Regions from separate parts of the Homo sapiens genome. Here all the other regions are linked to region 7. Evidence: fine-mapped expression QTL. A gene starts in region 7. Each other region holds a variant in brackets. All regions are shown on one strand. Distances are between the middles of the regions. Region 1 has its middle 99 kb from the start of SPANXA2-OT1. Region 2 has its middle 40 kb from the start of SPANXA2-OT1. Region 3 has its middle 120 kb from the start of HAPSTR2. Region 4 has its middle 52 kb from the start of SPANXA2-OT1. Region 5 has its middle 64 kb from the start of LDOC1. Region 6 overlaps SPANXA2-OT1 (SPANXA2 overlapping transcript 1). Region 7 holds the start of LDOC1 (LDOC1 regulator of NFKB signaling).

Evidence for each region.
Region 1: its variant is fine-mapped to the expression of LDOC1 in whole blood (TOPMed, PIP 0.97). The same link has a PIP of 0.9 or more in blood mononuclear cells.
Region 2: its variant is fine-mapped to the expression of LDOC1 in whole blood (TOPMed, PIP above 0.99).
Region 3: its variant is fine-mapped to the expression of LDOC1 in ileum (GTEx, PIP 0.97).
Region 4: its variant is fine-mapped to the expression of LDOC1 in whole blood (TOPMed, PIP 0.99).
Region 5: its variant is fine-mapped to the expression of LDOC1 in cerebellar hemisphere (GTEx, PIP 0.98).
Region 6: its variant is fine-mapped to the expression of LDOC1 in esophagus muscle (GTEx, PIP 0.98).

The regions. Positions count from the first base shown.
Region 1 is chrX:141,401,857-141,406,439 of GRCh38, forward strand. No RefSeq gene overlaps it. Among named protein-coding and RNA genes, the nearest start is that of SPANXA2-OT1, 99 kb to the right of the region's middle. The variant C/T (reference allele first, on the strand shown) is at 2,157.
Region 2 is chrX:141,460,827-141,465,409 of GRCh38, forward strand. No RefSeq gene overlaps it. Among named protein-coding and RNA genes, the nearest start is that of SPANXA2-OT1, 40 kb to the right of the region's middle. The variant G/C (reference allele first, on the strand shown) is at 2,287.
Region 3 is chrX:140,207,148-140,211,730 of GRCh38, forward strand. No RefSeq gene overlaps it. Among named protein-coding and RNA genes, the nearest start is that of HAPSTR2, 120 kb to the left of the region's middle. The variant G/A (reference allele first, on the strand shown) is at 2,431.
Region 4 is chrX:141,448,960-141,453,542 of GRCh38, forward strand. No RefSeq gene overlaps it. Among named protein-coding and RNA genes, the nearest start is that of SPANXA2-OT1, 52 kb to the right of the region's middle. The variant T/C (reference allele first, on the strand shown) is at 2,812.
Region 5 is chrX:141,110,969-141,115,551 of GRCh38, forward strand. No RefSeq gene overlaps it. Among named protein-coding and RNA genes, the nearest start is that of LDOC1, 64 kb to the right of the region's middle. The variant C/T (reference allele first, on the strand shown) is at 2,564.
Region 6 is chrX:141,512,530-141,517,112 of GRCh38, forward strand. It overlaps SPANXA2-OT1 (SPANXA2 overlapping transcript 1), which reads left to right. Exons shown (of 4, transcript NR_037183.2): 2 at 2,183-2,300. Among named protein-coding and RNA genes, the nearest start is that of SPANXA2-OT1, 12 kb to the left of the region's middle. The variant A/T (reference allele first, on the strand shown) is at 2,091.
Region 7 is chrX:141,175,609-141,180,153 of GRCh38, forward strand. LDOC1 (LDOC1 regulator of NFKB signaling) reads right to left here and starts at 1,521. Exons shown (of 1, transcript NM_012317.4): 1 at 1-1,521. The coding sequence starts at 1,413. The coding sequence ends at 973. RefSeq lists an enhancer at 586-1,085.

The DNA of each region.
Region 1 (4,583 bases), 230 kb after region 7:
TATATATGTATGTATGTGTGTGTGTATATATATATGTGTATATATATATATGTATATATATATGTGTATATATATATATGTATATATATATGTGTATATATATATGTATATATATATGTGTATATATATATGTATATATATGTGTGTATATATATGTATATATATATGTGTATATATATATGTATATATATATATGTATATATATATATGTATATATATATATATGTATATATATATATATATATATATGTATATAAAGGGGAGTTTATTAAATATTAACTCACACAATCAAGGTCCCATAATAGGCCATTTGCAGACTGAGGAGCAAGGAGAGCCAGTCTGAGTTCCAAAACTGAAGAACTTGGAGTCTGATGTTCGAGGGCAAGAAGCATCCACACCAGAGAAAGATGTAGGCTGGGAAGCTAAGCCAGTCTCTCTTTTCACATTTTTCTGCCTGCTTATATTCTAGCCACACTGACAGTTGATTAGATTGTGCCCTCCCAGATTAAGGGTGGATCTACCTTTCCCAGCCCATTAACTCAAATGTTAATCTCCTTTGGCAACACCCTCACAGATGCATCCAGGATCAATATTTTGTATCCTTCAATCCAATCAAATTGACACTCAGTTTTAACTATCACAGGTGGGTTCAGTTAACTATCTTCATTTTTGGAAAATTTTAGGGGCCAAGGCTCAGTTCTCAACTTTTGTACTGCGTGCTCCAACTCTGAGGGACTTGTATCAGACCCCAGTGTTATTCTCTGGCTTCTTGAGGTTATCAACCCACTGCACTAGGGGACCAAAATGCTTTTGGACCAGTGGTCACTACACTCTGATGGTTGGTGCCAGCCAAAGCGTTTCTTAGGGCAATGGTAGCGGGATCTTTTCTCATTTGCACATCCGAGCAGCAGTGGCAGTGACAGTATGAAGGGGTGCATGTAAGCAACAACATGGACGGGTGCATGCTAACTGGCTGCAGCAGGGTGTTAGTGGGTGCCAGGGTGCCTATCTTCTTGTGGGCATTCACAGCAGTGGCAGAGGCCGCACAGCTGGTATAGGGGGAGTAGGAGGGGGGCCTGTTGGTGGTTGTGCATGCTGTCACACTTGTGGTGTTAGCACAGGGGCAGAGCATTGGTGGGCACAGGTCTGTGTGCACCCTCTGGCTGCTCAGGGTTGTGGAGGGCTTGCTGTTCTGCATGCCTACTTTCACTCCAGCAGCAGTGTTGGCACAGGGGCAGGGCGCTGATGGGGGCAGGGCTAGCAGCATCTGTGCCTGTCAAAACTCTGAATGAAATGGTGATAAGGCAGGGGAGTGGGGGCAGAGTGCACTCCCACCAGCAGCAGAAGCAGGGCAGGTTGTGCATACAAACGTTCACTGGCAGGGCAGGTAAGGCAAAATCCACTCACAGACACACGTGCTGACAGATATGAAGGGCAGCCATAGGCCTGGGGAAGCTACAGTGGTGGGAGGGAGTAGGCAGGATGGTGCCTGGCCATGGGGGCTGCCCCACCGAAGCTTCCATCCATCAGACACAGTCCACTAGTGCAGGAGCTATGATGCGGTGCCTTGGGGCACCCAACGCTGCATTGCAAGCAAGTACAACCAGGATGGGGTCCTGAGAGAGGCCAGCAGACCAAGGAGTGCTCAGGTTGGACCAGCCCCATTTGATGGGCAAGACTGCCCTGCAGAGTTCAGGTCTGACAGCTCCCCTAAGGCTAAAGTCTCCTATGGGAGCAAGTCAAGGCTGAAAGGATGGGCATCCGTGGCTGTGCTCCACTACAGACACTCCCAAACCAAACCCTCTGGGCTCCGCATAGGCTGGTGTACTCACCTTAGCACTTCTGGAAGAAGCTCTCCCTGCCAACTCAAGTGTCCATGGTGGTCTAGGGATTTCCTCCTGCCAGGATTCCAGAGGCCCAGGTTGCTCCTTGCCAGTTCAACTCACTCATTTGTACCATTCGGGACCGGGAATGAGTCCCAGGGTACAGTAGCCCCGTGCAGAGTTCCCAGCTTCCTCTCTCTTTTCAGCCCATCTTCTGTGCCTTCCCTCCATCCACTTCAGTGCCTTCCTTCTGAAGATCTGTTAGGAGTGCATCAGTCATCTTGATCCCTCAGTGGCAGCTATACCATATGGCTGCATGTAGTCAACTATCTT[C/T]GAATCTTCAACTGAATCTTCTTATTTTGTTGATAAAACTTGTATAGGTCTCAGGCCTATGAATTGATGCAGATTTTCTTGACTCCTATATAATAATGGTAATAAATTAGACAATTAAAATTTTTTCCTCCCCTTTTAATTATAGTGTTCTATTCAGTTATCACTGTGTTTTCTAACACTGTAATCCAGTAGTATGCTTAAACTAAAATTCTTTGTTATGTTTATATGTCCATTCAAAAATACTTTATGATCACCTGTTGGGTGGCTGGCACAAATACTTATAGGATATATGAGTAAACAAAACAGATACAATTCCTGCTTTCATAAGGTTCAATTTTCTTAGATCCCTACATGCTAACCCTCCTGAACAATATAAGAAGGGCAGAATTATAAAGCCCTTTTCTATGATTTGAATGTATGTGTCTAAGTAACTTATGTGGCCATAACAGAATACCTGATACTTGGTAGTTTATAAAGAACATAAATGCATTTCTTACAGTTCTGGAGGCTGTTAAGTCCAAGATCAAGGCACAATTATCTAGTGTCCAGTAAGTGTTCAGTCCCTGCTTCCAAGACAACACCTTGATAGTGTGTCCTCAGGAGGGGAAAAACAGTGTGTCCTCACAGAGCAGAAGGCAGAAAGGCAAAAAAAGACAAACTCCCCTCAATCAAGCCCTTTTGTCACAGTATTAATCCATTCATCGGAGCAGAGTTATCAAGACCTAAATACGTCCCAAAAGGCCCCACCTACCAAAACTGTTGCACTGGGGATTTAATTTCCAACGTATAAATTTGGATGGATACATTTAGACCATAGCAGTGTCCTTCCAAAATTTATATGTTGGAACTTTATACCCACTGTGATAATATTAAGAGGTGGAGCCGTTGGGAAAGTGATTAAGTCATGAGTGTTCATGAATAGGATAAGTGATCTTATAAAATATGTTGAAAGGGGCACCCTAGTCCTTTTTTTCCCTTTTGTCCCATCCACCATGTGAGGACACAGTGTTTATTCCCTCCAGAGGATTCAGCAACAAAGCACCATCGTGGAAACAGAGAGTGAGCCCTTACCAGACAATGAATCTGCTAGTGCTTTGATCTTAGATTTCTCAATCTCTATAACTGTGAGGTATAAGTTTCTATTATTTATAAATTGCTTGGACTAAGGTATTTTGTTATAGCAGCAGGAATGGACTAAGACATTTTTCAATAAAATTATTACAATGAGAAAAAACATGGAAACTATTGATGATAAATTAACCTAAAGCAGCAGAATGGAAAATAACTTCTGTACTTAATAATGTAATGCATATAATAATAATATCTACCATTAGAGGAGCACACATAAATAAATAACAGCTATAATTTATTGAGGTCTCTAATAGCACCATGTACTTTATCTGATTGAATTCCTATCTCAAACATGTAATGTAATTACAATTATTACTGAAGCTCACTGGTTAAGGCAAGGATGGGAAGAGAAGAAGAGCGGAACTCTCTCAAAGGCACAGAGATAGTAAATGGCAAAGCCAGGACTCCAAACCTATTGCTTATCTTACCTCACTAAAACAATGTCAGTCAAATACAAGGATGAATAATACATCAAAAGCATTTTCCACTCTCCAGGAGCTCATGAGTCACCCAAAGTTGTAGACAACTAAAAACAATAACATTTACTATGCACTTACTATCACCTCAGTGCTGTGCTAAACCATTTAAAAATACTTTATTTCACTTAATCTTTACAATGAGACTATAAAATAAGTACTGTTAGTATCTCTGTTTTAAAGATAAGGGAACCAAGGGAAACTTGCCTAAGGTCACACAGCTAATAAGGAAGCTGGGACAAGGATTGAGACATACAAAAAACAACATTTTTTTGTACATTAAGGTAAACAGATTATTGGTGAGATTCCTTTGGAAAACTGCCTGTAATAACTTGCTTTCATCCTTTTTCCAGCAGAAAACACAGCACTGAAGCAGATTATATTTTCATGAGTCATTTTCTACTTATGCTACTGAGAGATTTATTTGTTCCATAAACATTAGCTACCATCCTCAATCCAGTGGTATGCAATATTGTGTAAGTGCAGCTCTCCCACACCTGCAGAGGAGTGACCTCAGGGAGCAAACAGAGGTTGCCTCAGCAGTCTCTCTTTCTCTCTCTCTCTCTATTTCATAGACCTATGATCCTGTTCTCAGCAACACTTAAAGTAGCTCTTCTCCTGTGCTTTAATGAAAGCTTGCTCTGACACTGCTATTGATAAGGGGTATTTGATGTCACTTTGGAACGAGTGGACATGTGTATAAGTATATATTTACAGGAAATTAATCCATCCTCTGGTCATGGAAGTTGGAAGAACATAAAAGCATGTAAGCAGCCTGAGATGGTTGACTCACAAGGAAATGACTAAGAGTCACCAAAAT
Region 2 (4,583 bases), 290 kb after region 7:
AAGAAGGGAATACAATTCAAAAGACAGGTTGAATGGCATATCCGGGACTGAAAGAAAAGAGAAAATCGTTGGTAAATGTGGATACAGAAAGCTTTATGTAAGAAGTCAGGAAATTGAAGAATTCTGTTCCTGGTAAAATAGAATAGTAAGCCTGAGAACAATAAAGGAAACTACTTAGAAACTTAGTGGTAGTAGTTTCTAAGAGGGATTGACTTGTCAACCTCAATTCTTCACCCTCCCCTGCAACTACACTTTGGCCACGCCATTGATGAGCAGAAAATGTACATTGTCTCCCTTAACTTGGGGCTTGGCCTTGTGAATTGCATTGGTCAATAGAATAGGGCATAAATAACAGTATGCCAGTTCTGATTCAATAACTTAAGAGGATTCACATGTTTCTGCTTGCCCTCCTATGCCTCTGCAATGACCATGAGAAGAATATCCCTGCAATAGCTGTTCACTTTTCAATCTGAGCCCAAGAAAAACAGATCTGGAGATAAATATCCCCAGCTGCTGTACCACTGAAGCAGAGACATCAGCCAATTAACAGATTGATGAAAATAATAGACAACTATAAGCCATAGAATTTGGAGGATTGTTACACATAATTATTGTGGCAATATTTAACTCACACAAGAGAACTGACCAAAGATAAGAAGAAGATGCCTCTTATGTATCCCACATGAGATTAGGAAGAAGGAAGTTAGAAAAGAGAATTATAAGGAGGGGATTGAAGCTCGGAGAGCCCAAGAAACTTGCCCAAAGTTGTGGACAAGGAAATTATGAAACAATGACTGGAATTCAGGACTGTCTGATTCCAACTCCATGTTCTTTTTGCTGTATCAATCTGTATGGTCTCAGAGGAGTCAACCTGACATTCCTGAAGAGTTCTGAATGGAGATGAGCTCTGAGAAGTACAGAAGTCTCCAGGCACCAGGGACCAGAACTCATATTCTATGGCTGATCGTGTATGAAGAAGTGCAATTTATATCACCCACTGGCTTTCTAGGGGAACTCTATATTTCTCTTTGGGGCACACATTTTTTTTAAATGTAGGTAGTATGGGAACATCAGAGTTTGGAAATCAGACAGGTTTGGATTTGAATCCCAGATACGCAATTTACTTACTATGCATATTTCAGCAATTGACTTAAACCTGGATGCACTTCAGTTTTATCATCTATGAAATGGACAAAATTTACCTTGCTGGTTTGTTCAGGGGATGGCTAAGCTTAGGCATCTTTCCCATAGTAGGTGCTCAGTAAGTGTTAGCTCCTCCCTACTTCTTATCACAAGGGCACTGCTGTCTACAAAATGAACCTTCATGCACAAAAATTAGAGAACAACAACAACGACAATAACAATAACAAAAGCTTCCTCCAGGTGTGAATTTTGTTTCCCTTAAAAGTAACAAGATACTGTCTTTATTATAAACAAATATATATTGCACCCCTCTTTTTTTCATCTTTCTTACTTCAAATTTATGTTTACCCTCTGTATTAGTTAGTTCTTGCGCTAGTATAACAACATACCTGAGACTGGGTAGTGTATAATGAAAAGGGGTTTCAGGCACAGTTCTACAAGCGGTACACGAGGCATAGCTGGCGAGGCCTCAGGAAACTTACAATCATGGCAGAAGGTGAAGAGGAAGGAGGCGTGTCTTCACATGGCCGCCAGGAAAATAAGAGACAGGGGGAGGTGCTACACACTTTTACAACAACCAGATCCTGTGAGAACTCACTCACTATCACAAGGACAGCAAAAAGGAAGTTGGCTCCCATGATTAAATCACCTTCTACCTGGCCCCTCCTCCAACTCTGTGAATTACAGTTTGTCATGGGATTTGGGTGGCAACACAGAGCCAAACCATATCACCTTTCTAATTTCCTCATGAATTACTGTGGCACCTCAACTACTACTCTGCAATATTTCTGCCAAGACTGGACAAAGGGCAACATGAGTGAGGTACTAGGGAAGAATCCCATTTCCTCTGCATCCTAAATCTTGCCATAATGTTAGCCTAAAGGTTGAATTCCAACAGCAGGGAAAGAAGGTGGAAAAGAATAATTTTTATTGATCTCTTCCCGCCGCAATTTTCTTCCTTCAGTTCGGCAGCAGTCATGTCAAGGGTAGCGGTGGAAAAATAAATGGCTTCTCTCTGTGATCTGTGTTTTATAACATCTCTGTACTCCTCTTTCTTCCTCCCTTTTTACTAGATTTACAGAAGAAAAGCAAAGGTGACAGATTAGTATAGTGATTTGTGTGTCAAACATAAAAAATAATAAT[G/C]GTTCCGTGTAGACTATAATAATAATAGTAATAGTAACAATAATGGCCGGCATTTTTCAGGCTTTTAGAATGTGTCAGGTATTATTCTAAGGCCCTTACACCCATTAACTCATTGAATCTTCACACAAATTCTGTTGAGTAGGCACTAGTATTATTCCTATTTTAAAGAAAAGAAAAAATATCTCTGACTATAACATTGGATTTATCTGTTTCTCCTTGTAACTTTATCAGTTGTTGAATCATGCATTCTGATGCTCTGTTTGTAGGTGCATACACATTAAGGATTGTCTCTTTGTCCATTCAGGCTGCTATAACAAAAGCATACATTGGATGGTTTATAAGCAGGCATTAATTTCATACTCCTGGAGACTGGGAAGTCCAAGATCAAGGTGCTGATAAATTCAGTGTCCGGAGAGGGCCTCTTCCTGGTTTGTTGGCCCCTGACTTTCAGCTGTGTCCTCAAGTGGTGGAAGGGGGAAGGAATCTCATTGGGTCTTCTTATAAGGCTGCTAATCCCATTGATGAAGCCTCAGTCCTCCTGACCTAATCACCCATCAAAGGCCACACTTCCTAATACCCTCTTTTTGGGGATTAGGATTACAACATTTAAATTGTGTGTTAGGGGGAGGGTGGGGTAGGGACACAAACGTTCAGACCATAGCAGATTGTTATGTCTTCTTGGATGACTGACTCCGTTATCATTATGTAATTATTCAATTTATCCATGATACCTTACCTTGCCTGGTGGTCTGCTCTGTCTGAAATTAATAGAGATAGTCCCACTTTCTTTTGATTAGTGGTAGCATGGCATATCTTTATTTTTAGTTTTATTTTTTTTATTATTATTATTTTTTGAGATAGAGTTTCACTCTTGTCGCCCAGGCTGGAGTGCAATGGCGCATTCTCAGCTCACTGCAACCTCCGCCTCCTGGGTTCAAGTGATTCTCCTGCCTCAGCCTCCCGAGTAGATGGGATTACAGGTGCCCGCCACCATGCACAGCTAATGTTTTTTGTATTTTTAGTAGAGACAGGGTTTCACCATGTTGGCCAGACTGGTCTCAAACTCCTGACCTCAGGTGATCTGCCCGCCTCGGCCTCCCAAAGTGCTGGGATTACAGGCATGAGCCACCGCACCTGGCTGGCATATCTTTCTATATCTGTTTACTTTTAACCTGCAAGTGTCTTTATATTTAATGTGAGTTTCTTGTAAAAAGCATATGGCTGGGTTTTGTTTTTTGATACACTATGACAATATCTGTCTTTTAATTGCGATATTTAGACCATTGATGTTTAAGTGATTATTGATACAGGTGGGTAACATTGAACACATTTGCAACTGTTTTCTATTTGTTGCCCATGTTCTGTTTCTATTTTTGTCTCCCACACTTTTTCTGCCTTTTGTAGTTATAACTAAATATTCATATGATTCCATTTTCTCTCCTTTATTAATATATCAGTCATATTCCTTCTTAATCTTTTCTTGGTGGTTTCCCTAAAGTTGCAATATATGTTTAAAACCAATCCAGGTCCACTTTCAAATAACACTATACCACTTCATGGGTAATGAAAGTAATTTAAAATAACAAAATAATCTGAATTCCTCCATCCTGTCCTTTGCAACATTGCTATCATTTATTTTACTTATATATAAGCATATAAATACAGAAGTATATATATTGAATACATTGTTGCTATTCTTTTTTAAACAAACCATTATATGTTACATCAATTACAAATAAGAAAAATAAAAGCTTTTAGTTTACTTATTCTTTCTCTAATTTCTTTATGTAGATCCAAGTGTCTAATCTATATTATTTTCCTTCTCTCTGAATAACTTTTAACATTTCTTTCAAAGCTAGTCTTCTGGCAATAAATTCTCTCAATTTTTGTTTATTCAAGAAAGTCTCTATTTCTCCTTCACTTGTGAAGGATAATTTTATAGGATTCAAAATTCTAGGTTGGTGAAGTTGTTTTTCTACCAAAACTTTAAATATTTCACTCCACCTTTTTCTTGCTTGCCTGGTTTCTGAGAAGTCAAGTGTAATTCTTGTCTTTGATCCTATATAGGTGTCTTTTGTTTCTGATGGCTTGTTTCAAGACTCTTTTCTTATCTTTGATTTTCTGCAGTTTGAAAATGGTATGCCTGGCTGGGCGTGGTGGCTCACGCCTATAATCCCAGCACTTTGGGAGGCCAAGGCGGGTGGATCACCTGAGGTCAAAAGTTTGAGACCAGCCTGGCCAACATGGTGAAACCTCATCTCCAGTAAAAATGCAAAAATTAGCTGGGCGTGGAGTGG
Region 3 (4,583 bases), 970 kb before region 7:
TGATATAAAATTCTAATAATATTGAGAAGAATATTTTGAAAACCTGTTTTAATTTTTATTTTTTTAATTTCCATGGGTTTTGGGGGAGCAGGTGGTATTTGTTTACATGGGTAAGTTCTTTAGTGAAAACCTGTTTTTTAAAGAAGAGTTTAATCTTTTGTTTTATTCATGTGACCAATTTATAATACAAAATACTTGAGCCATCAGATGATACTAATAGATTTTGCTTTAATGGCTCTCTGTGTAGAACTTCCTTTGTGAGAACTGGTGACAGATCACTATGTAGGAATTAATAGCATCAATGAGTAAGAATCACTTTATGCTTATTTTTAGTAGAATCAAGAGAACTCCCTTCTGAAGCATTTACAGATTCGTAAATTATATACCAAAATCAGCAAGATTTTGAGAATGCCGGTGAGTTGTTAGTAAAGAACTAGTGCTCAGCAGCTCTGCCAAAGCAAGACCTATAAGAGGGGAGGCATATCTATCTACCGTAAGGAATTTGTCTTGAAATATTACATTTTAACTCTTACTTGAAACAACTCCAACTGAAGGACACAGATTGGTATGGGTGTTGGTTGTAATGGTGCTTACAGGAATGCAGAAAGACCTAGCTTTTTAATTGATGTATCAAAATCTGCAAGCTTTTGCTCGCTAGTGGTTAATTCTAATATGAAAAGGTTGAGAAGATGGTTACTTTTCCCACATGACTCAGATGAGTACTGAATTGAATAAAAAGTGGGCAGTGGTTGTGGTGTTATATGTGTATGGTGGGCAGGAGGGAATTAAAAGTAATGGCAGCAAGGCACAGCATCTCACTTCCTTCACTTTGAGCTTCTCTTCTTAGCCCTTCTAAGCATTCCATCACCATATTTTTTTTTCCTTTTCATGATTACTCATATTGTTCTCTGCCTAAATCCCATCATTCTAGGCCAGGCCCCATTCTTAACTTCTTCATTATACAACTATGATAATAAGTATACATATATTGAGCAATGTACATGTGTGAAACCCTATGGGAGACATTCTACACACATGATAATGTTTAATCTCCACCAGACATTGTGGAATTAGTAAAAAGTGGTAGGAGATGATTTGAAGAAATAAGGAGAAACCAGATCAGGTAGGGGCTTGTGGGCCATGACAGTAATTTAGATTATTCTGAATGTGAATGGATGTCATTGGAGGGTTTTGAGCAGTAGAGTGATACAGTCTGACTTATATCATGAAGTGAGTTCTCTGGATGTCCTGTAGAATGTTGATTAAAAGGGGCCAAGAGCAGAAGCATGAAGACCAGTAAGGAGGCTTTTGGAATGGTAATGAAAAGATAATGGTATCTTGGGTCAGGGAAGTAGTGATGGAAATGGTAAGAAGTGCTGGATTCTAGATATCTTGCGAAGAATGAACTGACACTTCAGGCTGATGGGTTGGATATAGGATAGTGACGGAAAGAAATTTAAGGATGACTTGAAGGTTTTTGGCCTGACCAACGGGGTATATGGTGGTGCCATTTATTTAGATGAGGAACACTGAGGGAGAGTTTAGGGCGAGACTGAAAACCAAGAGTTCAACTTTAGGCACATAGAGTTTGAGATGCCTATTAGATACCCAAGTGGAGAAGTTAGGTAGGTAGTTGTATATATGAGTCTAGAGATAAGAAGAATTTAACTGCTATTGCCACTCATTGATAGGGCTAGAAAATTATAGGAAGCAATTGGCCTGGGAGGTGGGGGAATAGAAGACCAAAGATAGACTTTTCTTGTGAGGAACTGGCCCAAGCTGCCATTGGCTCTACTATATCTTCAATATCACTATGTAACAGGGGTTTTGAAAATCTGTTATAAGACCTGTTCTGGACAACTGTCCTAGAAACTATGTAGGAGCAACATGAAATGACAATAAAAAGGAAGGATGGAGAATAGAACATGTGGAAGAAAAATAAAATTATATTCTATTCAAAATGAGCTTCTACACCAAAATTTCAAAACGCGTGAAAAATATCTACACTTAAGTGAGGTCACCAAGGAAATAAACGATCAGAATATGAATTCATTCAGAATGAAATGATTTTATGAAAAGATCTGTCATTTAAAAAATATGTTTAGGATGCTGAAAGAGGTAAATGAACAACTTTCATTGAAAATAGAAAATTATGAAATAAACAAGCAAAAAGAAATGAAAAATGAGACCACATGAATATAAAAGAACCAATCAGAAATCCTGGACATGAAAAAAAGTCATTTAAATAAAAAATTCAAAAGAACATAAACTTTGGGTTGCATATAGTCAGAGAGAACATATTAAATTGCAAGACAGAGTACTGAGAAATTCTAAATATAGCAAAGAGAATGATTTTTTAAAAACAGAATAATGACATATGAGCTATAGATTGAGAGGCTTCAACAAATATTCTGTAGGAATGACAGAAGT[G/A]GTGAAGAATATCGCAGAGAAGTAATGTTTGCTGATATGATAACTGAAAAAACATCCAGAATTGAATGCTTGAGTTCTCAGTTCTGTAGTATACATGAGATTTGAGCAGGATAAATGGAAATATACAGCTAGATACATCATAATAAAACTGCAGAACATTAAGGATTAAGATACTATCTTTAAAACTACCAGAAAACATTGATTACCTATGAAAGAATCAATTAGACTCACAGTATATTTATCATCAGTAAAAAATAGTGTTATCTTAAAGTGCTAGATAAAAATAATTTCAAGAGTGAGGGTAGATCAAAGTATTTTTACACATGCTCAGCCTGCTATTTTACAGGTCAGAGAGGGTCACTAAAGGAACTCTTAAAATATATACTTAAAAAGAAGAAAGGGCAAGTTTAGAATACAAGAACAGGTTAAAACAGCATAGACATGGAATCAACCTAAATGCCCATCAAAGGTAGACTGGATAAAGAAAATGTGGTACATATACACCATGAAATACCATGCAGCTATAAAAAAGAATGAGATAATATCCTTTGTAGCAACATAGATGGATTTGGAAGACATTATCCTAAGTGAACTAATGCAGGAACAGAAAATCAAACACCACATGTTCTCACTTATAAGTGGGAGCTACACATTGAGTACACATGTGATCTGGTTTAGATCTGTGTCCCCGCCCAAATCTCATGTTGATTTGTAATTTGAATGTTGGAGGAGGGGCCTGGTGTGAGGTGATTGGATCATGGGGGCAGATTTCTCTTTTGCTGTTCTCATGATAGTGACTGAGTTCTCACGAGATCTGATTGTTTAAAAGTGTGTAGCACCTTCCCCTTCGCTCTCTTCCTCCTGCTCTGGCCATGTAAGACCTGCTTGCTTCCCCTTCACCTTCCACCATGATTGAAAGTTTCCTGAGGCCTCCCCAGCCATACTGCCTATACATCCTGTGGAACTATGAGCCAATTAAACCTTTTTTTTTTTTTTTTTAAATGGATTACTTAGTCTCAGGCATTTCTTTATAGCAGTGCAAGAACGGACTAATACAACATGGACACCTAATAATCAGTATTGAGTATCAATCAGTGCAAAGAAGGGAATAATAGACACCAGGGCCTACTTGAGGGTGAAGCGTAGGAGGAGGGTGAGAATAAAAAAACTACCTGTCAGGTACCGTGTTTATTACCTGGGGGATGAAATAATCTGTACACCAAACCCCTGCAACATGTAATTTATCCATATAACAAACATCCACATGTACCCCTGAAACTAAAAGTTAAAAAAACCAAAAATAGATTATATAGTTATATATTTAATTAATTGAATGTAAGAATTACTTTTTGATGTTTAAGAAAATATAAAATTAATGCTCAAGATAAAATGAAAAATATTAGAGTATTTAGTTTGAGGTTATAATGTGCTAAGTTCTATATCATATTCAGTAGGTGAATGAAAATTATAATAATTTTAGGTTGTGTTAGAAAAAATTTATATATCCTTATGACAGAAGTGGTGAAGAGTATTGCAGAGAAAAAATTAGTACAGTTTTATATATCCTTAAAATATTAAAAATAACCAGTAAAAACTAGAAATATTATCTATAGCTTCAAAATATGTAGAGAAAAAATATAGAAAACTTTATAAATCAAATTGAAAGTCAAGAGAAAAAAAGAAACAGAAAATGATGCTATACAAAAAACATAAAATGAGAGAAAATTTCTAAAAATGTCAGCAATCATTATAAATGTGAATAGATTAAATTCAGCTATATAGAGGGAAAGATTACCAAATTATGAAACAAAGTCCAATTATATGCTGTTTGTATGATATACACCTAAAACCAAACCAACAGAACATTGAAGTTAATGAAATAGAACAAATAAATGCTATGTGAATTCTAACCAAAAAAGGATTAGTGAGATAATAATATATCAAAGTGGAATTTGAGAGAAAATCATTAATAAAGAGAAACATTGCATAAAAATACATCAACTAGGTATAATAACCGTGGACTTGTATGCCCCTAACTTTGAAATATACAAACAAAACCTAACAGATACACAGAGAGAATTAAACAAATCCACAATTATAGCAAGAGATCTTAGCACATCTCTCTTCAAAATAGAAAGACCAACTGAGATAAA
Region 4 (4,583 bases), 270 kb after region 7:
CTAAAAACCAGAGCACTTCTTCTCCTCCAAAGGATCGCAACTCCTCACTACTAATGGAACAAAGCTGGATGGAGAATGACTTTGAAGAGTTGACAGAAGTAGGCTTCAGAAGATCAGTAATAACAAACTTCTCTGAGCTAAAGGAGGATATTCGAACCCATCGCAGGGAAGCTAAAAACCTTGAAAATAGATTAGAAGAATTGCTAACTAGAATAAACAGCATAGAGAAGACCTTAAATGACCTGATGGAGCTGAAAACCATGGCACGAGAACTACGTGACGCACGCACAAGCTTCAGTAGCTGATTCAATCAACTGGAAGAAAGGATATCAATGATTGAAGATCAAATGAATGAAATGAAGTCAGAAGAGAAGTTTAGAGAAAAAAAGAGTAAAAAGAAACGAACAAAGCCTCCAAGAAATATGGGACTATGTGAAAAGACCAAATCTGCATTTGATTGTTGTACCTGAAAGTGACAGGGAGAATGGAACCAAGTTGGAAAACACTCTTCAGGATATTATCCAGGAGAACTTCCCCAACCTAGCAAGGCAGGCCAAAAATCAAATTCAGTAAATACAGAGAACACCACAAAGATACTCCTCGAGAAGAGCAACCCCAAGATACATAATTGTGAGATTCACCGAGGTTGAAATGAAGGAAAAAATGTTAAGGGCAGCAAGAGAGAAAGGTGAGGTTACCCACAAAGGGAAGCCCATCAGACTAACAGCATGAACAGTGGATCTCTTGGCAGAAACTCTACAAGCCAGAAGAGAGTGGGGGCTAATAGTCAACATCCTTAAAGAAAAGAATTTTCAATCCAGAATTTCATATCCAGCCAAACTAAGCTTCATAGGTGAAGGAGAAATGAAATCCTTTGCAGACAAGCAAATGCTGAGAGATTGTGTTACCACCAGGCCTGCCTTACAAGAGCTCCTGAAGGAAGCACTAAACATGGAAAGGAACAACCGGTACCAGCCACTGCAAAAACATGCCAAATTGTAAAGACCATCGATGCTAGGAAGAAACTGCATCAACTAACGAGCAAAATAACCAGCTAACATCATAATGACGGACCAAATTCACACATAACAATATTAACCTTAAATGTAAATGGGCTAAATGCCGCAATTAAAAGACACAGACTGGCAAATTGGATAAAGAATCAAGACCCATCAGTGTGCTGTATTCAGGAGACCCATCTCACATGCAGAGACACACATAGGCTCAAAATAAAGGGATGGAGGAAGATCTACCAAGCAAATGGAAAACAAAAAAAAAAAGCAGGGGTTGCAATCCTAGTTTCTGATAAAACAGACTTTAAACCAACAAAGATCAAAAGAGACAAAGAAGGCCATTACATAGTGGTAAAGGGATCAATTCAATAAGAGGAGCTAACTATCCTAAATGTATATGCACCCAATACAGGAGCACCCAGATTCATAAGGCAAGTCCTGAGTGACCTACAAAGAGACTTAGACTCCCACACAATAATAATGGGAGACTTTAACACTGCACTGTCAACATTAGACAGATCAATGAGACAGAAAGTCAACAAGGATACCCAGGAATTGAACTCAGCTCTGCACCAAGCAGACCTAATAGACATCTACAGAACTGTCCACCCCAAATCAACAGAAAGTACATTCTTCTCAGCACGACACCACACCTATTCCAAAATTGACCACATAGTTGGAAGTAAAACACTCCTCAGCAAATGTAAAAGAACAGAAATTATAAGAAACTGTCTCTCAGACCACAGTGCAATCAAACTAGAACTCAGGATTCAGAAACTCACTCAAAACCGCACAACTACATGGAAACTGAACAACCTGCTCCTGAATGACTACTGGGTAAATAACGAAATGAAGGCAGAAATAAAGATGTTCTTTGAAACCAATGAGAACAAAGATACAACATACCAGAATCTCTGGGACACATTTAAAGCAGTGTGTAGAGGGAAATTTATAGCACTAAATGCCCACAAGAGAAAGCAGGAAAGATCTAAAATGGACACCCTAACATCACAATTAAAAGAACTAGAGAAGCAAGAACAAACACATTCAAAAGCTAGCAGATGGCAAGAAATAACTAAGATCAGAGCAGAACTGAAGGAGACAGAGACACAAAAAACCCTTAAAAAAATCAATGAGTCCAGGAGCTGGTTTTTTGAAAAGATCAACACAATTGATAGACCACTAGCAAGACTAATAAAGAAGAAAAGAGAGAAGAATCAAATAGATGCAATAAAAAATGATAAAGGGGATATCACCACTGATCCCACAGAGATACGAACTACCATCAGATAATACTATAAACACCTCTATGCAAATAAATTAGAAAATCTAGAAGAAATGGATAAATTCCTTGACACATACACCTTACCAAGACTAAACCAGGAAGAAGCTGAATCACTGAATAGATGAATAACAGGCTCTGAAATTGAGGCAACAATTAATAGCCTACCAACCAAATAAAGTCCAGGACCAGAAGGATTCACAACTGAATTCTACCAGAGGTACAAAGAGGAACTTGTACCATTCCTTCTGAAACTATTCCAATCAATAGAAAAAGAGGGAATCCTCCCTAACTCATTTTACGAGGCCAGCATCATCCTGATACCAAAGCCTGGCAGAGACACAACAACAAAAAAAAGAATTTTAGACCAATATTCCTGAGGAACATAGATGCAAAAATCCTCAATAAAATACTGGCAAACCGAATCCAGCAGCACATCAAAAAGCTTATCCACTAAGATCAAGTGGGCTTCATCCCTGGGATGCAAGGCTGGTTAAACATATGCAAATCAATAAA[T/C]GTAATCCAGCATATAAACAGAACCAAAGACAAAAACCACATGATTATCTCAATAGATGCAGAAAAGGCCTTTGACAAAATTCAGCAGCCCTTCAGGCTACAAACTCTCAATAAACTAGGTATTGATGGGACGTATCTCAAAATAATAAGAGCTATTTATGACAAACCCAGAGCCAATATCATACTAAATGGGCAAAAACTGGAAGCATTCCCTTTGAAAACTGGCACAAGACAGGGATGCCCTCTCTCACCATTCCTGTTCAACATAGTGCTGGAAGCTCTGGCCAGGGCAATCAGGCAGGAGAAAGAAATAAAGGTTATTCAATTAGGAAAAGAGGAAGTCAAATTGTCCCTGTTTGCAGATGACATGATTGTATATTTAGAAAACCCCATCATGTCAGCCCAAAATCTCCTTAAGCTGATAAGCAACTTCAGCAAAGTCTCAGGATACAAAATCAATGTGGAAAAATCACAAGCATCCCTATACACCAATAACAGACAAACAGAGAGCCAAATCATGAGTGAACTCCCATTCACAATTGCTTCAAAGAGAATAAAATACCTAGGAATCCAGCTTACAGGGGATGTGAAGGACCTCTTCAAGGAGAACTACAAACCACTGCTCAACGAAATAAAAGAGGACACAAATAAATAGAAGAACATTTCATGCTCATGGATAGGAAGAATCAATATCGTGAAAATGGCCATACTGCTCCAAGGTAATTTATAGACTCAATGCCATCCTCATCATGCTACCAATGACTTTCTTCACAGAATTGGAAAAAACTACTTTAAAGTTCATACAGAACCAAAAAAGAGCCCGCATTGGCAAGACAATCCTAAGCAAAAGAACAAAGCTGGAGGCACCACGCTACCTGACTTGAAACTATACTACAGGGCTACAGTAACCACAACAGCATGGTACTGGTACCAAAACAGAGATATAGACCAATGGAACAGAACAGAGCCCTCAGAAATAATACCACATATCTACAACCATCTGATCTTTGACAAACCTGACAAAAACAAGAAATGGGGAAAGGATTCCCTATTTAATAAATGGTGCTGGGAAAAATGGCTAGCCATATGTAGAAAGCTGAAACTGGATCCCTTCCTTACACCTTATACAAAAATTAATTCAAGATGGATTGAAGACTTAAATGTTAGACTTAAAACCATAAAAACCCTAGAAGAAAACCTAAGCAATACCATTGAGGACATAGGCATGGGCAAGGACTTCATGACTAAAACACCAAAAGCAATGGCAACAAAAGCCAAAATAGACAAATGAGATCTAATTAAACTAAAGAGCTTCTGCACAGCAAAAGAAACTACCATCAGAGTGAACAGGCAACCTACAGAACGGGTGAAAATTTTTGCAATCTACCCATCTGACAAAGGGCTAATATCCAGAATCTACAAAGAACTTAAACAAATTTACAAGAAAAAAATCAAACAACCCCATCGAAAAGTGGGCCAAGGATGTGAAGACACTTCTCAAAAGAAGACATTTATGCAGCCAACAGACACATGAAAAAATGCTCATCATCACTGGCCATCAGAGAAATGCAAATCAAAACACAATGAGATACCATCTCACACCAGTTAGAATGGCAATCATTAAAATGTCAGGAAACAACAGGTGCTGGAAAGGATGTGGAGAAATGGGAACACTTTTACACTGTTGATGGGAGTGTAAACTAGTTCAACCATTGTGGAAGAGAGTCTGGCGATTCCTCAAGGATCTAGAACTAGAAATACGATTTGACCCA
Region 5 (4,583 bases), 65 kb before region 7:
AATCGGGTTTATTACTCATTACAGTAGGAGAGAATATACATCATAGAGAACTATTTTTATCAATTATGGGGGCATCTCAGTAGGAAGATAATAAAAGGATTTGTTATAGTGTTTGGATTTGTATTAGGTGATTTGCGGGAGATTTTGAGGAAGCAGAATTTTTCTCTGGGTTGAATACTCTCGGGAAGTCGGGGTAATATGATGATCAGGTATCTTAATACACCTTATCTATTGTGAGGGCAGTCTAAAGCAAGGGTAGACTTGTAATTGGTAAAAGAAAAAAACCCAGCAACTTATATTATTCAGAATAGTGAGATAACTGGTCATTCTTGTGACTTGCACAATGTCCATGTTCTGTCTGTGTTCAGACATGATTGCAGAGCGGTCTTGTTTTCGCCTTCATCCGTCATGGTCACACAGCGGCCTCATTTAATGCTGATGTTCCTGATAGAGTAATACCAAGGCCTAGCTGTGAGTGCCAAGCCAGCTCCTAGCAACAACTGGGCATAGCTTGTGAATGTCAGAAGCTGTTTTTCTCTTTCTCAAAACCAGTTAAACATTTAGTTCAGTGATTTGTCCTGCAGCTGGTGGATGAGATGGAATTTTCAAAAGCGGAAAAAAATAGAACAAGGTATGTTCTTTCTCAAAAGACATGTTTTCCAGCACTATTTCTATACGGCAAATTATTTCTTATACAAAGTTAAAATATAAAGAAGAGATTAGGAGAAAATACTTGTGATATGTATAACAAACAAATGACTATACAAATTTTTTCTATAAATAAAAAATCAAACAACCCAATAGAAAAATATGGCAACAATTCACAGATTAATAACTACAAATAGATAACAAAAGATATTCAACTTTACTATTCGTAAAGTAAATATAAATTAAAACAAAGAAGCAATTTTCTTCCATTGGATTGACAACAAAAATCATGAGGGAATAGGAAATCCTAATACTGTTAGAACAAAGTACAAGTACTTTGCAGGATATTTTGGCAATTTCTAGCAAACTTTAAAATGCTCATTAAATTTTTAAGAATTTTCCTTTTAGAAATGCTACACATGTGCACGAAAACATATGATTCAAAAATGTTCATTGTAACATTTGTTAAACAGAAAAACTGGTGAAAAACATTTGTACATCAATAGAGAAATACCTACATTTAAAAATGATGTATCCATACTATGAAGTTATATGCAGACAATTAAAATATTGACATAGATATGTATGGCAAATATAGAGGAAAAACAAAGATACAGAATTAGACAAGAAAATTAATTTACAAAAGTACTTAATATCTCATTTATGTCAAAATATTTATGTAGGCCAAACGCAGCAGCTCATGCCTGCAATCCCAACGTTTTGGGAGGCTGAGGCAGGAGGATTGCCTGAGTCCAGGAATTCGAGACCAGCCAGGGCAACACAGTGAGAACTCTTCTCTACAAAAAAAAAAAAAAAAAAAAAAAAAAAAAGAGCCAGGTGTGGTGACTCATGCCTGTAGTCCCAGCTACTCAGGAGGCTGAGGTGGGAGAATTGCTTGAGCCTGGGAGGTTGAGGCTGCAGAGAGCTGAGAATATGCCACTGCACTGCAGCCTGGGCGACAGAGCAAGACCCTGTTTAAAAAATATATAATTATGTATTTTTAATATTTGCATATATGTATATGACTATATTATGAATCTTTGTATATATATTTAAATGAATATAAAATTATCTGTAAGTGAGCATACCAATTGCAAGCTGTTTCCTTTGAGGACCAGTAATTCAGTTGAATTTTGGGAGAATAGAGGGTGGAGAGAATGGTAGAAATGCAAGTTTTTCTGTATATACATCTGCACTGCTTGAAATTTTTATAAGAAAATATTATTTTCATAATAAAAAGTTATATAATAATATATTCTTTTTTTTTTTTTTCGAGACGGAGTTTCACTCTTGTTGCCCAGGCTGGAGTGCAATGGCGTGATCTCAGCTCACCACAACCTCTGCCTCCCGAGTTCAAGTGATTCTCCTCCCTCAGCCTCCTGAGTAGCTGGGATTACGGGCATGTGTCACCACGCCCAGCTAATTTTGTATTTTTAGTAGAGACGGGGTTTCTCCATGTTGATCAGGCTGGTCTCGAACTCCTGACCTCAGGCGATCCACCTGCCTTGGCCTCCCAAAGTGCTGGGATTACAGGCATGAGCCACCATGCCCGGCCAATAATGTATTCTCTTAGGAACTGTCTAGCTGAGATGGGGTAACTTGTAATGGAGTTATCTTCCTGGCAGAAACAACTAAAAACACTGGACTATATACATATATATATATATAAATGTTTTTTAAGCGTTAGAAATTAGGTAGTGTGAGAAAATAATTCCTTACAGAGGGAAAACAAAGTGAACCCTTACGATTGTCCTGGCTTACTGTCTGAAAGGAGACTTCAGGCTACATCATAGAAAGGGAGAACTCAGGCCGGCCGCGGTGGCTCACACCTGTAATCCCATAGCATTTTGGGAGGCCAAGGTGGGGGGATCACAAGGTCAGGAGAGCGAGACAATCCTGGCTAACACGGTGAAAC[C/T]CCGTCTCCCCTAAAAATCCAAAAATTAGCCAGGTGTGGGGGCACACGCCTGTAGTCCCAGCTACTCAGGAGGCTGAGGCAGGAGAATTGCTTGAACCCTGGAGACGGAGGTTGCAGTGAGCTGAGATCTGGCCACTGCACTCCAGCCTGGGCGACAGAGCAAGACTCCATCTCAAAATAAACAAATAAGTAAATAAATAAAATAAAAAGAAACGGAGAACCTAAATGGAATCCAGTGGCCTCCCTAAGTTGAGAAGACAGAGCTAGGAGTCCAAAAAGGGAAATACAGCTACAATTTTCAGGGAAGAATACAAGAGAAAAGAAAGCTGCACAAAAAATAAGATAACTGCAGCGATTTGTTGAAGGTCCTTCTCAGCTTTAGTTGAGCATGAATCAGTGCATGAATGTGAGGAAACTAACTGAAGCTGGAGAAGCAACTATCTGTAAACAGCAGAAAAAAACAATTCTTAGAGCTCAAACATTTCTTTTTCCCACAAGTCAGAGTGAAAAGCCTTGTATTTCACATGATATTAGGTAGGTTCGTCAGAGGGTATCGCCACAGTAGTGGAAGAAAAATAGTCCTAGATTAATAGCTAGTCTGGTTCTGTCTAATGAAGTTTACAAACAAGCCTTGAAAGAATCAATGTTTTTTTTTTCCAAGTAAATTTAAAGCATCTCAGATTTAAGTGTGAAAATAATATTAGGAGAAGAAAAACACCACCAAAAAGGTAAAATCCACATTGTCTGACATCAAATAAAAAGTTACCAATCACGCATGAAGGAAAGAAAATAAGAGCAGAAAAGCCATTCAATAGAAAGAGACCAGAAAATGGCACCTATAGAATGAGTAGACAAGAACATTAAAACGGCTACAGACGGCTGGGTGCAGTGGCTCATGCCTGTAATCCCAGCACTTTGGGAGGCTGAGGCGGGCAGATCACGAGGTCAGGAGATCGAGACCATCCGGGCTAACACGGTGAAACCCCGTCCCTACTAAAAACACAAAACATTAGCCGGGCGTGGTGGCAGGCGCCTGTAGTCCCAGCTACTCGAGAGGCTGAGGCAGGAGAATCGCTTGAACCCAGGAGGGGGTTTCAGTGAGCCAAGGTAGTGCCACTGCACTCCAGCCTCGGCAACAAAGCAAGACTCCATCTCAAAAAAAAAAAAAAAAAAAGCTACAGGTATTCTAACTATATTATATATGTTCAATAAATAAGAGGAAAGGTTGAACATGTTAAGTAAACATATGAAAGATATAAAACATACCAAAATCAAACTTCTATGGATATAAATTACAGGTCTGAAATGAAAAATAAACTGAATGGGATATATAGCAGATTAGACACTGAGAAGAAAATACCAACACTACAGGTTGAATTTTGTTCCCCCAAATTAATATGTTGAAGTTTCAACCCCCAGTGCTGTAGAATGTCACATTATTTTAATACAAGGTTCTTGTAGAAGTAATGAGCTAAGATGAAGTAATTAGGGCAAGACTTAATCCAATACTACTGGCCTTTTAATAAAAAGGGGAAATTTGGACATAGACCCAGTGAGAATGTCACATAAAAACAAAGGCAGAGATTGGAATGATGCTTCTGAAAGCCAAGAAATGCCAGTGTCCGCCAGAAAATCACTGATTTAGCTAGGCAAGAGACATGGTAGATTCTGAGAGGCCTCCGAAGAAACCGACCCTGTCAACACCTTGATAATAAACTTACAGCCTCCAGAGCTGTGAGCAAATACATGATGTATAAGCCACTCAGTTTGTGGTATTTTATTATGGCCACCTTAGCAAATTAAAGCTACCTGTAACATTGAAAACATTAGAAGAGTAATTTCCACATTAAATGCAAAGAGGAAACATTATTTCAAAACAAAGCTAGAATACCTGTATAATATGATCCGGTAGCTTTCAGAGGCAAGAATATCACATGCAAAATGAGGGACACTGTAAACTGATAAAGGGAGAATTGACCAAGGAAATATAAGAATTTAAATATTTAATATTTAGGTATCC
Region 6 (4,583 bases), 340 kb after region 7:
ATTCTTGCTTGTCAAATACTCTTGGAACTCTCTTTTCTTTCTTCCCTATTGGTTCCCTTATTAATAAATTAAAATGTTCACATCTATTTATATTAAAACATTGTCACATTACCCATACTATTTTAAATGAACTTCAAAGTTCTTTTTATTGCCGCAAGGCCCTGTGTGATCACACAACTGCTTAACGCTCTGGGCTCATCCCCCACCAGTCTTCTAAGCTGTGCTGGCTTTCTTGCTGTCCTAAAACACAGCAGGTCATGTTTCATCTTAAAGCCCTTTCAGCTTGCTCTACCAACTGCTTGGAAATCTTTCCTCCCAGATTTCAGTTTGGATCCATCCCTCCCATCTGTCAGATCTCTGCTCAAATGTAAGCTCTTCATAGATGCTTCCCTGACCACCCCATCCAAAATGTCAAAAACACATCCACTTTATAAACCCCTTAACCTGCGTCGCTTTTTCAAACGTTTCACTGTCTACCCACCATCGATTCTACCATTAACATTTTTTTTTTTTTGAGATGGAGTTTCGCTCCTGTTGCCCAGGCTGGAGGGCAGTGGTGCGATATCGGCTCACTGCAACCTGCGGCTCCCGGGTTCAAGTGATTCTCCTGCCTCAGCCTCCGGAGTAGCTGGGATCACAGGCATGCGCCACCATGCCCGGCTAATTTTGTATTTTAAGTAGAGATGGGGTTTCTCCATGTCGTTCAGGCTGGTCTCGACTTCCTGACCTCAGGTGTTCCACCCGCCTCGGCCTCCCAAAGTGCTGGGATTACAAGCGTCAGCCATTGCACCTGGTCTACTATGAACATTTTTAACATTGCGTAACATTTTATAAATACACCTGGGGTTGTGCTCATTGTTTTCATGTTTCCACAACTGCAAGTTAAAACCCAGCAGCGTTGTGGCTTTGCCTGTTTTGAGCACTGCTCTATCCTCAGTGTTTGTAACAACTCTTGGGATGCAGCAGATGTGGTAGATTAAATTGTCATAATTATTCAGTCACTTGTAGTACTGGTATTATACATACATTTCCCTGCCATGGCCTTATGATAGTTGGATGATGTAATGGTTAATTTTATATGTCAAGTTGATTGGGTCACCTGGTACCGAGATCTCAAATTAAACATTACTTCTGGGTATGTCTTTGAAAGTGTTTCTAGAGGAGATTATCATGATCTGAGAAGAGAGTTGAAATGTACCTTTGAAGTACCTTTAATGCTGGGCTTGTCTCGTCTACTGCCATTGCTGTGAGAAAAAAAAAAAGATGCCCTGTCTAGTTGCGACTGCTTCAACCTATATACCGGAATGAGACACATAGTGAAGCACACCTATATTCAGTTTTCAGCCTGAATTTATTCTGCCCTCATTGACTTTGAAGACCCATGGATGAGAAAAATGAGTATTTTTGTCTACCTCTGAGATATTATACTTATGTGTTATGTAGCCTTACTGTACCAATAGCTACTTTAGGCTCTAAGTGTTCAATAGGTTATCATTAAATGAATGAAATGAATTGTAAATATTTGGCACATGTTGCTTCGTACGATTAAAAAGCATTTTGTTAAACTACTAGGCATTTTACACTGGGAATCATCATGTTCCTATGTAGAATGTATTAGTAGAGGAAATTTTGGATGTTGGAGTATGGTAGCTCTTCTTCCTGTCTTCATAAATGTCGTCTAATAGCTAAACAGAAGCTGAATGTAGCACTTTGAAAGCTCTAGCAAGGAACGTGATATTGTCAGATTCCAAGCCCATGGTTTGACAAGATCTCTGGCTGGAGTTCCTCGCCAGTAGAATGGATTAAAAGTAAATAGGCTGTTAATTTATGTGTGCTTTACTGCCCAAGAAACAAAAATCCTAGCCAACAACCTTGATCCCTTTGTCTGTATGCTTATACCAATACAAAGCAGACTACTAAAGCAGTGAAGCCTCTTATGAGGAATAATCTGGAAAATGATTATCCTGCCTCTGACTTTGGGGAAATACTGATGAGGGATACTTTCCCAGAACAGAACCAGGGGAAGCCAGCTTGGGTGATCAGGAAACTCAATTCACTTCTAGGACAGAACATCCTCTGTGTTGCTGTCT[A/T]ACAGATTATATTGTATTGTAAAGCATTATCACTTTATTTTCCCTCCTGTCGTTTTCCAAAAATAATAACTTTTTTTTTTTTATTGAGACAGAGTCTCACTCTTGTCACCAGGCTGGAGTGCATTGGCGCGATCTTGGCTCACTGCATCCTCTGCCTCCCGGGTTCAAGCGATTCTCCTGCCTCAGCCTCCCGAGTAGCTGGAACTACAGGTGGGTGCCGTCATGCACAGCTAATTTTTGTGTTTCTAGTAGAGACGGGGTTTCACCATGTTGGCCAGGATGGTCTAAAATAATCACTTTTATTAATGTTGCCTTGTTTTTCCTGCATCATGGGTACATGAATGTGTTTGGGGTTAGTATAATACTATTTAGTCTTGGATCACTGATGCATCACTTAGAGATTATGGACTTGAGTTGAGTGCATTACCCAGAAGAAACTTTAGGGAGCCTCTCTTTAGGGACACTTGAAGGAATTTCATGTAGGTGTGGACACTTTTAAAGATGTATGTATTAGAAGGACGCAGAACATGGTTGTTGTTTGCCTACAGATTATCCATTTCCCCCTTCTTTCTTCTTAAGAGAACCGTAATTTTCTTAAGGCATTTGCCTTCCTTCATGAAGCTCATGTAATTGAAAAAAAGGTGCCCTTATCTTCAGCTTCAGAATAAATGATAAACTAATCAATCATAATAATGCCTTTCCTCTTGCCAGCAATTATTTCAGGAAGCCAAGCTTAAGCTAATCAGTATGTGGCAATGTCTAGGGATGAAGATGTGATGTAATTTGGCTCAGCGAGAAAGAAGGTATAAATAGGGTGATAGAATTTCTCTGGTAGAAAATGAACAAAGACGTGCATAGCTTTGATGGCTCTTGCAGGTATCATATAACCATGAGGGGTACTAGCATTATTAATACGAAGCTGAAAATGTGGACAGGAGGGCTAAGAAATTACATGAACTAATTACATCATTAAAGAGTTGATCCAGTCCACCCAGAAGCCTTCACTTCACTCGAAATACCTTTTGTGTGTGATAACATACGCCTCATTGCTTGAGTTGTGGATTTTGGTTACTTGCAGCTGTAAGCATTCTGACTGATACAAGTCATTCTTGGTGTGTGATTTTGAATTGGTGACTTAAATTCTCCAAGGTTCAATTTTCTCAACTTTTTTTTCTGAAAATACTATATCAATCACTTTTGTCTTCATAGTATCTAAATAACATTGGGGGTAATCCAGAGAGAAATGTGAGTCAGGGCCTTACCTTTTACTTGGAAACTGAATGAGGGGCAGATATTCTTAACTTCAAGTTGTTGGCATAGACCCAGGGGACGAGCATAGCCATGTGGACGCTTCTGCCAGGAGCTCTGACACTTTAGGAGGTATACTAAGATGTAGAGAAAGTCAACACTTATTTGCAGTGTTTGTGGCAGAGGCTAGAGTCCAGTAGTGTGACAGTATTGAGAAGTGACAGTGCTTCCAGTGGGACCCTAAGAAAACTGCTTCTCTGGGGTGATTCTGGGTGAGCTCTTCCTCCCTTGACTATTGCCATATATTCTTCACCTGACTCTCTGCTCTTCTCATGGACTCTAAGAACAATGTGTTATCTCTCTAACGAATTGTTTTTCTGCTTATATTACCAGACTCGGTGTCTGTTGTTCGCAAATGAAAGCACCAACTAGAATAGTTATTTGCCTAATAAGGTTGATTTGAGGACTAGATGAGATAACATTTAAGTAGATGCTGAATAAAATTAAATTTAAGATTCACAAGGTTTTGCTTGAGTAACAAATGTATCCTACATTTTGGATACATGTAATTATAAATATCTACTTTTCACTCATGCTACAAGTCTACTGTGGATTGGCTATTTCTCGGTGCTATGTCATTTTTTTGAGACGAAGTCTCGTTCTGTCGCCCAGGCTGGAGTGCAGTAGTGCGATCTAGGGTCACTACAACCTCTGCCTCCCAAGTAGCTGAGGTTAAAGTAGCTGTAGTTAAAGTGATTCTCCTGCCTCAGCCTCCCAAGTAGCTGGGATTACAGACGCCCACCACCATGCCTGGCTAATTTCTGTATTTTTAATACAGACAGGGTTTCACCAAGTTGGTCAGGCTGGTTTTGAACTCCTGACCTCAGGTGATCCGCCCGCCTCAGCCACCCAAAGTGCTGGGATTACAGGCGTGAACCACCGCGCCCAGCTGCTATGCTATGTCATCTTTACTTCAGAAAACAAGCTGAGGGAGTATCTTCTTTCTGGAATACTGTCAGTCTTCATGGCAGAGAGAAAGGAGACAAAGTGAACCACTCTCTTAAACCTTCTGCCCGGAAAAGACACATATCACTTCCACATTTCACTAGCCCAAGTGAGTCCCGTGGGCTCTCCTGATTTCATTTGGAGTGGGATGTATCCTTCTACAGGGAAGAAGACTAAAGGAGCAACACTGGAACATTTAGTGAATAGTTACAGAGGCTACCGCAGTATATTTACCTGTTC
Region 7 (4,545 bases):
GCTGTCCCCAGCAGCCTGGAGATGACAGCGGGGAATACTAGGATTGGTTGTATTCCCTGATTTCCACGGGAATAATGGTAGTCAGAGTGACAGTGGTAGAGGCCAGTGATAGCACTTAACCATTAAAAGACAATCATTTCTTTTTTTAGTGCTTGATATTTATTGAAAATAATGCCAATGCTTTTTCCAGGTAGTATTGAGGAGCTGGGCTGAGTGCTTGTTTGTTTTGTTTTTAAGTACTATTTGTCCAAATGCACACATCTGTGGGACTGCTGCAATTTTGAAAGAAAAATGACAGCTGTGTAAAACCAGTGCATAGGAAAAAAGAAGTGTCAACAATTTGGCTGCCAGGCACACCGCGCCCCTGCAGCAATCTGGTGGGGCAGGGGAGGACACTCGGAGTAGGTAGAAAACTAACCAGGCTGAACGGCCCCTTCAGGGGTTGGTGAGCTGTCCAAATCAATGTCTGAAAAGGCATAGCCAACTCTGGCATTTTCCAGGTTGGTCCTGATCTCGAAAGGTGGTAGTCTGTAGGTGGGATGTGGTGAGTGGATGTGAAGTGGCAGCATAGTTCTCTGGGAAGATGTAAGCCTGGCAGCAGGGCAGGTGGCAGCAGCAGGGCTACGGGTGGTCTGCGCAGTTTGTAACAGGGGCCTGGCCAATAGCTGGGGTTCAGGACACAGTTCAGATTAGCAGGGGAGGGATCCCGGGGATGGCCAGGGTAGATGACACTTCCAAGCACTTCCGAGTGAGTGAGGCTCCAGCCCCGACCCCAGCAGCAGGTAACTGGAGCGCTATTCCTGGAACAAAGACAAGCACTACGGAGAAATGAAGAGAGAGAGCAGACGGGCGCGGGTAGGTAAGGGGACCGGAGGGCAAGGGGGAGAGCAGTGGCTCCTGGCGGGGTGAGGGCTGCGGGGAGGGGGTGGCGGCGTGCAGGGCCCTCCCCCCCGAGGCCCGAGGGTCGAGGGCCTAATAATCATCCTCCTCTTCTTCGTCGTCGTCGTCTTCGTCGTCATCCCAGCCAAAGCACTGTTTCATCTCATCGAGGAAGGCCCGGTAATCACCTAGGATGGGGCTATCCATCTCGATGTAGGGCACCACCCACTCCTCGGCTTCCCCGGTGAGGAGGCTGATTAGGAATGCCACCTTCATGGCGTCGTTGCAGAATCGGTTCTCGTTCACGAGCATGTAAGACGCCGTCTGCACGATAAACTCGGGGAGCCGGGAGCTCTCGCCATTAAACGTTTCGGGGAAGGGCACCGGGCAGCTCGGCGGACGTACCTGGCGCAGCAGGCTGGCCCTCTCGCACACCAGCAGCCGCAGCTGTTCCATGAGCTGGCTGTTCTCGATGCTCAGGGCGCGGTGCCGCATCAGGAGCGCGTGCAGCAGCAGCACCAACTCATCCACCATTGCGAACGGCCTGGAAGGACAGGACTCGGCTCGGTTCGGCTCGGCCAAGGTGCGCACGGAGCCCTCGCAGGAAGTGCGTGTCCACGGAGGCGCTTGGTGGCCAGGGGCGGGGGGCGGGGGGCGGTGTGCGCCGGGGTCCGGGAGGCTACGCAAGCTCCGCCCACGAGGCCATTCGGACGGACGGTGCGCCGGCGCGACGGGGGAGGGGCGTGGCTAGGCTGGGAGTGGGGGGGCCGCGGCGGCGTGGGGGCGTGGCCGGGATGGGAAGGGTGTAGACAAAGAGGGCGTGGCCAGGAAAAGGATGCGCTGGGTCGCTGAACCACCGGCTTGTGGTAGGTCTCTCGGCGGGCAGTTAAAGGCTGGGATAGGCTCCCCTAGCTCCTAGTTGTGGGGCCTGCGTTAGCAGAGGACTTGGCGAGCGCTGAGTCCGGTCTCAGAGAAGGTAAATTTGTTCAAACTGAAAGGATTAGCCACCCTTCTACCTAGGTAGCTTGCACAACTCAGTGTTCCTTCGTGGGTCTGTGGCCACTAGATTCTCTTGGCTTGATGTTTTATTAACACATTTTCTTTCTTATTTAAATCTCACTCAGAGAAGTATTGACACTGCTGGCTGCCCTGTGGGAGTCACACTTCCTTTTAGAATCATGAAGACCCTCAGGGGGTCCTGCCTTTCATGAAAAAGGTAGTATTTAAACAGTGACTTCTTTAGTAGGGAAATAATATGGTATACACACACACACACACACACACACACACACACACACAAAACCTAAGTAACAAGATATAAAAAAGTTCTGCAAAATCAGCATCCAATAGTCAATTGCAGGCATCCCACATATCTTTGATTCTCTATTTCTTGTCTTGCTATTAGTGCCGTTGGCCACTGGGTATTATTCTGTACTTAAAAATGAACTGTTAAGATGTTTGTGTTTTTAAATAATTTTGTTTTTCTACTTTGAATGGATCCCTGATTCTAGAGCCAACATGAATTGTTGGCTCTGCTTTCAAATATATTGCCAATTCAATCACGTCTTGTCATTTCTGCCACTGCCACCCTGATTCCTAGCCTTTCTTTCTCACCCAGACTGCTGCAACTAATCACTTAGCTTTCACTCTTTTCTTCCTATAGTATATTCTCCATAGAGTAGCCACGGGAATCCTTTAAAACAAAAATTAGGGCCGGGCGCGGTGGCTCACGCCTGTAATCCCAGCACTTTGGGAGGCCGAGGCGGGCGGATCACGAGGTCAGGAGATCGAGACCATCCTGGCTAACAGGGTGAAACCCGTCTCTACTAAAAATACAAAAAATTAGCTGGGCGTGGTGGCGCATGCCCGTAATCCCAGCTACTCGGGAGGCTGAGGCAGGGGAATTGCTTGAACCCTGGAGGCAGAGGTTGCAGTGAGCCGAGATAGCGCCACTGCACTCCAGCCTGGGCTACAGAGCGAGACTCCGTTTCAAAAGAAAAAAAAAAAGATCCCTTCACTCTCCTGCTCAAAATCCTCCAACAGTTTCACCTGAGAATAAAGAGCAAAGTTGCAGCCAAGGCCTACAAGGCCCCTCCTTCTATCCTGTGCCTCTTCCCAGTTTCTGCTGTGCTCTAATCACTGTCCTCCTTGCTGATTCTCACACCCATCAAGCAGTTCTGGCTTCATAGCCTTTGCATCTTCTATTCCTTCTGCCTTGCAAGGCTGTCATCCCAGTTGGCTGCCTGACTCCTCCTACTGCTTTCAGAGAGAACTTTTCTGACCACCGGACCTATCAGAGCACCCTGTTCTCTGCCCCCAATCTGTAACCCTTTACTCTGCTTCATTTATCTACATAACATTTATTGTGCTACCGGCCACCATGTCGTATGTATATACAGTACTTTGCTCATCATCTGCTTCCATTTTAGAATATATAAGTCAAACACTGCTTTTGCTATCTGGTCTATCCCTAATGCCTAGAAAAGTTCTGGCCCAGAGTAGAGGCTTCATTAATGTTTGGCGAGTAAAATCATCCCAGAGTGAAGATGCTGAGATGAAAATCAGAAGTTGTCGCTGCACAAAGAGTCAAAAAATACTCTTCAAATTGTTAAATGTAAGGTTGGGCGTGGTGGCTCATGCCTGTAATCCCAGCACTTTGGGAGGCTGAGGGGGGCAGACCACCTGAGGTCAGGAGTTAAGACCAGGCTGACCAACATGGAGAAACCCTGTCTTTCCAAAAAATACAAAATTAGCCAGGTGTGGTGGTGGGCGCCTGTAATCCCAGCTACTTGGGAGGCTGAGGCAGGAGAATCACTTGAACCTGGGAGGCAGAGGTTGCCTGAGCCGAGATCACGCCATTGTGCTCCAGCCTGGGCAATAAGAGCAAAACACCATCTCAAAAAGAAAAAAAAAAAAGAAAAAAAATTGTTCAGTGTATTTTATCTCTGACCATGGATCAGTCTCGATTGTGAAACAATGACTGATGTAATAAAACTGGCTGAATAGATTTTTAAAGAAATTCGATTCGGTCCTTTAGGATAGAATTGAATGATCATCCATGGAAGTAGGAGGCTGGGAAAGAGCAGAGAAACAGGGCCAAGCCCCAAGCAGGGACACGGGGAAGATCACAGTGGTGAAAGGATAAGCAGTGAAAAAAAGAGATAGGAGGAATGTGAGCTTTTGGCCTCTCCTGTGCTATGAGCTCCGCCACCTGAGAAGTTGGCAGGCAGGGATCCACTCTCACTCTTAATTTTATCTTCAGCACCTGGCAGTGTTTACTAGCTGCTCCGTAAACATTCAGTGTAAGGATTGAGGGGAGGGATGTGAAATGTGGAAAGTAGGTCTCTGGCCATCATGCCCATTTACAGTTCAGAGTACAGGATGGGCCTGACTGGGACAGAGGTAGTGTCCAGCTTCACCTTTCATATCCAGGCCCTAATACAGGAAGAGTACTCAGGGTTCGACTCCTGGGAGCACACTTTCTTTCTTTCTTTTTCTTTTTTTTAGACAGAGTTTTGCTCGTGTTGCCCAGGCTGGAGTGCAATGGCACAATCTCGACTCACTGCAACCTCCGCCTCCCGGGTTCAAGCGATTCTCCTGCTTCAGCCTCCCGAGTAGCTGGGATTACAGGCATGCGCCACCACGCCCAGCTAATTTTATATTTTT